2 separate regions of the Homo sapiens genome follow, and region 1 is linked to region 2. Evidence: fine-mapped expression QTL. A gene starts in region 2. The other region holds a variant in brackets. All regions are shown on one strand. Distances are from middle to middle. Region 1 overlaps ALOX5AP (arachidonate 5-lipoxygenase activating protein). Region 2 holds the start of LINC00398 (long intergenic non-protein coding RNA 398).

What was found. PIP is the estimated chance that this variant, and not a neighbour inherited with it, causes the effect.
Region 1: its variant is the best candidate, but not a certain one, in a credible set for the expression of LINC00398 in whole blood (INTERVAL, PIP 0.56).

What each region holds. Positions count from the first base shown.
Region 1 is chr13:30,762,208-30,765,118 of GRCh38, forward strand. It overlaps ALOX5AP (arachidonate 5-lipoxygenase activating protein), which reads left to right. Exons shown (of 5, transcript NM_001629.4): 5 at 1,737-2,219. The coding sequence ends at 1,899. Among named protein-coding and RNA genes, the nearest start is that of ALOX5AP, 28 kb to the left of the region's middle. The variant G/A (reference allele first, on the strand shown) is at 1,296.
Region 2 is chr13:30,801,840-30,804,750 of GRCh38, forward strand. It overlaps LINC00398 (long intergenic non-protein coding RNA 398), which reads left to right and starts at 1,367. Exons shown (of 2, transcript NR_047012.1): 1 at 1,367-1,753. RefSeq lists a silencer at 1,142-1,261.

The DNA.
Region 1 (2,911 bases), 40 kb before region 2:
TGATGCTGCTGGTCCACGGACCATACTTTGAGTAGCAAGGAGCTTGATACATAATGGCTGAGTGACTTTCAGACTCCTGCTGTAGAAAAATTATGAGTTGGCTGGGCGTGGTGGCTCACGCCTGTAATCCCAGCACTTTGGGAGGCCGAGGTGGGCAGATCACCTGAGGTCAGGAGTTCGAGACCAGCCTGGCCAACATGGTGAAACACCATCTCTACCAAAAATACAAAAATTAGCCAGGTGTGGTGGCAGGTGCCTGTAATCCCAGCTACTCAGGAGGCTGAGGCAGGAGAATCGCTTGAACCCGGGAGGCAGAGGTTGCAGTGATCTGAGATCGTGCCACTGCACTCCAGCTGGGCAATAGAGCTTGACTCAGTCTCAAAAAAAAAAAAAGAAAAGAAAAAGAAAAATTATGAGTTATATTATCAGCATATGGGGTGCCTTTCAAATTGATAAAATTTCTAATATTAAACCTGTGGATGCCAAATGCTGCTCTCTGATTATGGCAGGAAACGGCACTTGGCAGTACGAAGTTAGCTGTTGGGCTGAGCTGGCTCATCTTGTTGTGCGGTCCTGATTGCCTAAAGATGCCTTCCCAGGATCTTTACTAACAATCCTCCTGAGTCATTTGGACTTTCCCAACCTGTTATCACCTCTCAGATGGGCCAGCCATGGAGGCAGTCAGAGGAGGGCTCTGCAGAGGGAGGGCAGAAACAGGGTGGCCTCTGCATGCCATTAGGAGGTCACATCTCACTGGGGGATGCAGTTTAGGATTTAGTGCCTTGGAGAGAAGGATAGAGTATATTAAAACATGTCTCCGCTAGGCATGGTGGTTTACGCCTATAATCCCAGCACTTTGGGAGGCCGAGGTGAGTGGATTGCCTGAGCTCAGGAGTTCAAGACCAGCCTGGCTAACATGACGAAACCTCATCTCTACTAAAATACAAAAAGTTAGCTGGGAGTGGTGGCGTGCGCCTGTAGTTGCAGCTACTTGGGAGGCTGAGGCATGAGAATCACTTAAGCCCAGAAGACTGAGGTTGCAGTGAGCCGAGATTGCACCACTGCACTCCAGCTTGGGCTACAGAGTGAGACTCTATCTCAAAAACAAAGAAACAAACAACAACAATAACAACAAAAACCAAGTCTCTCCCTCCACTCAAAAATGCAAGGGCCTGTCTCCCATTGCTGGGTGCCCAGGTCTCATGAATGTAGATATGAATTATTCCAGTCAGCCTCAGGAGAATAGAATGAGCCCTCAGATGCCGAAGCACCTTTCAGATTCCACCGGTTTTATC[G/A]GCTCATTTAAACTTCACTTCTAACACAGTCCTGCATTACACACGTGTCTGTCGTTATGGGCAGCTGCAGAGAGGGTCTTAATGGTCCTAATGCTCAGTGAGGATGCCCAATGGTCAACAGAACCTGCCATCTTCAGGCCATCAAGGAGCTCTGGAGTTAAGGAAATCATGAGAGCACAGAGGGGCGGGTACAGCAGAGCCCTCGTGGTAATGGGTTTTGAGGTCTAGGCTCTCTTCACTTGGGTTTGAAATAAGTTCAATGACTAGTAATAGCTGAGACACTTCTACCCTTCAAATGAAGTAAATGGGAAAATGGAGCATTGTTGAGTCCAGGGAGCTATAATTTAAACCCCATATATCTAAAAGGGGTAACATTTTTGTGTGTGTGAAATTGGTGTCATTCGCACTGCATCTACAGTTTTCTTTTTCCTTCTCTTCCAGCACCCCTGGCTACATATTTGGGAAACGCATCATACTCTTCCTGTTCCTCATGTCCGTTGCTGGCATATTCAACTATTACCTCATCTTCTTTTTCGGAAGTGACTTTGAAAACTACATAAAGACGATCTCCACCACCATCTCCCCTCTACTTCTCATTCCCTAACTCTCTGCTGAATATGGGGTTGGTGTTCTCATCTAATCAATACCTACAAGTCATCATAATTCAGCTCTTGAGAGCATTCTGCTCTTCTTTAGATGGCTGTAAATCTATTGGCCATCTGGGCTTCACAGCTTGAGTTAACCTTGCTTTTCCGGGAACAAAATGATGTCATGTCAGCTCCGCCCCTTGAACATGACCGTGGCCCCAAATTTGCTATTCCCATGCATTTTGTTTGTTTCTTCACTTATCCTGTTCTCTGAAGATGTTTTGTGACCAGGTTTGTGTTTTCTTAAAATAAAATGCAGAGACATGTTTTAAGCTGATAGTTGAGGGGTTTTGTTAATGGCTTTTGGGGGATTTATCTCTATACCCACAAACGACTAGTTTGTTTTCCTCAAACTAAATGATAATATTAAAAATACACATCCTGGCCAGGTGTGGTGGCTCATACCTGTAATCCCAGCACTTTGGGAGGCCGAGGCAGGTGGATCACTTGAGGTCAGGAATTAAGACCAGCCTGGCCAATATGGTGAAAGCCTGTCTGTACTAAAAATACAAAAATTAGCCAGGTATGCTGGTGGATGCTTATAATCCCAGCTACTTGGGAGGTTGAGGCAGGAGAATTGCTTGAACCCGGGAGGTAGAGGTTGCAGTGAGCCAAGATCATGCCACTGCACTCCAGCTTGGGCAACAGAGTGAGACTCCATCTCAAATTAAAAAAAATACACATCTGGCTTCTGGAAAAATTACTTGAAGATCTTTTATGACATCCATCCCTCTTCACACAGCCATGTGAATTAGGTTGGTATCTTCATATACTAGCATCGTGCCCAGCACTTCCATGTTATACAGTTTAAAATGTTCTGTAATTCCCTGTGGGAACCTAAGATAATGCGAGGACCGTCATACGTGCCCCCAAATATTGGCAAACCAATGAATAAATGAATGAATGAGTTTATGAATCGCTAACTGGCTGTATTTAATGAAGTATGTGTGTTGAGCCATTTCCCACAGT
Region 2 (2,911 bases):
CATTATCACCCACATCCTCATGAGTGTGAGGGTCCAAATGGTACTGATAAGAAAAGTTAGTAAGAGGCAAGGTCACCTGCAGTGTCTGGGGTAACAGACACCACATCTCTGCAAGCCCCAGCCTTCAGCCTGCCAGGTGGAGGGGCAGACTCCATCTGATCTCAGAAAATTTGAGAACCGTCCAGGCACAGTGGCTCACACCTTTAATTCCAGCACTTTGGGAGGCCAAGGCTGGTGAATCACTTGAGGTCAGGAGTTTGAGACGAGCCTGGCCAACATGGCGAAACCCCGTCTCCACTAAAAATACAAAAATTATCCGGGCATGGTGGCACGCACCTGTAGTCACAGCTTCTCGGAGGCTGAGGCAGGAGAATTGCTTGAATCCTGGAAGCGGAAGTTGCAGTGAACTGAAATCATACCACCGCACTCCAGCCTGTGTGACAGAAACAGACTCTGTCTCAAAAAAAAAAAAAAATTGAGAACCTTCCCAGGGCCCACCTACAGTTGACTCTTGAGTAATGAAGGCTTTAGGGGTGCCAATCCCCACACAGTTTAAAATCTATATACAACTTTTGACTCCCCCAAACTGAACTACTAATAGCCTACTGTTGACTGGAAGCCTTATTGATAACATAAATAGTCGATTCACACATATTTTGTATGTTAATGTATTATATACTATATTCTTACAATAAAGTAAGCTAAAGAAAAGAAATTGTTATTTAAAAAATCATAAGGAAGAGAAAGTATATCGACTACTCATTAAGTGGAAGTGGATCGCCATGAAGGCCTTCAGCCTTGTGGTCTTCTGAGTAGGCTGAGGAGGAGGAGGAAGAGGAGGGGTTGGTCCCGCTTCTCAGGGGTGGCAGAGGCAGAAGAAGGTCCACCTCTAACTGGACACACACAGTTCAAACCTGTGTTGTTCAAGGTCAACTGTACACGCCACCGAGACCAGAATGGGTGGTTTGATATTTGTCAGTGGCAACAATTCAATATTCTATCCTTTAGATGTTTTCTCACTCTGGTCACATTTAATGTGTTTAATTGATGCTGTGTGGAAGTTTCTTCACGTTAGAGGATAAATAAGCCATTCCCTTTGATAGGAGCCTGGGGCTTTCCCTGCGAGGAGGGCACTTTGGGAGCAGCCTTCTCATTAGAGGGCAATTAGCCGGGCTCCCGCACCCGGTGCCCTGAGCGGGGCTCCTGAGTAGGCAGGGCAGACGCGCCATCTAGTGGCAGCTCTCAGGACGTCCACACGCCTGCTCCTGCGGGCTCCCGCGCCCTGGGGTGGCAGGCACCGGCATGCTAGAGGTTAACGAGGAGGTTCCCTCCTTCCAGCGTGGATGAGCCTTTCCGTGAGGGTGACCGGAAAGGCGCCTGGGCTGGTGACGGTGTCAAGTGTAGGCAAGAAATACGGCTGATCAAGAAGCGACTTCACCTCCCTCGCACAACACTGAGTCCCTTTGCGGCAGGGGCCCTCCCCGCCGCGAACCCTACTTGGAACCTTGCGCCATGCGATGTCTCTCTCATTCTAGGCCACGGAAGCCCTGGGTCACCCTTTCAGCCTGGTTCTCTCCGGTGGTGCTGGCTTGTTTCTCCTGTCTGTTGGGGTCAGCTGCGTCCAGCCTCGGCTCCTGCAGGATTGCCCGGGCAACCCAGAGGAGATGGGCGGGCGTGGAGGTCCTCCCTGGATGACCCTTCCCACCATTTCAACATCATTAGGAATTTAACAGGCTTTTGCAAGAAGGCCCAGGTACGCATCCCCCCATTTATAGTAGGATTTCCAGGACAAAATGTATTCCACTCTCTAAACAACAAGCAACATGTATACAACCCATTCATAAGGTAAAGATTCCCTTGCCTACACCTAGCTTCTCCTGCCCAAGCATGGCCTTGTCGTTCTCTTCCCCAGGTCAAGTTCAGGACCTAGCAGCTGGGAATGCACATTTTCCAAGTTAAGAGTGGAAGAGTCCCAGCTTGGCTTAGATGGAGTCACATATAGGATTCAGGTTTGCCTTGGCAGGTCTGATGGACCTTGGTGAGGGTCCGCCAGCAGCTGTGCACAGCAGCTGCCCAGGGCCATGCAGCAGGCACCGCACTCCCCTTCCAGGAAGGATTCCAGGCCCAGCTACAAGGAGCGTGGCTACTGACAGCTGTCCACTCACAGCTCGTCAGACTAAGCTTCAGCTTTCAAAAAGGACTGTGCCCTCCTTGGGCTGGCCCAGGCCCACATAAGAGCAAGGCAGTGGCCCAAAGGCCTGGCATTTCTGCCCACCACGGGATTCCTCTCCTGGGTGGTCTGTGCTCCAGAGCTCTCTGTGGGGCTGGCTTACTTCTCCCCTGGCCCCTCCACAGGAGTTACTCAGCTATAGCCCCTCTGCACACATAACTCTATCTGGGAGCCTTTCCCGGAGGATGCAACCTAACTGGTTGGCTCATCCTATAGAAGCCAGTGTCCTTGACTTTTTCAGGTGATGAACCTCTTTTGAGAGGATGCTGATAACTGTAAGCATCTTCCCAGGATTTGCACATGTCCAGTGTTAGAGTGCAGGTCCCCCAAGGCCATCCCACGGGCCTTCACAGGGAGTCGGGTTGAGGACTTCTGACTGAAGGAGGTGGGGAGGAGGCGAAGTCGGGGAATGAGGAAGATGGGGCTGGGGGATAATAACAGGGCTTCCGGCAATGGAGAGGAGGGTTAATTCTCATTTCTGACTCACAGCGCAGCCTCCCATGAGTTCATGGATTCTGTGGGAAAAACCAAAAGCCAATTCCCTCAAGTGCTATGTCAGGCCCTGCAGGCAGGTGGCCGGCGGTGGCCCCATATGGCTCTGGCACAATGAGGGCTTCAGAGAACAGAGCTGCCTCTGCCTGGGGAGTGCCAGTGGCATCAGCAGCAGGGGTGGTGCCCAGT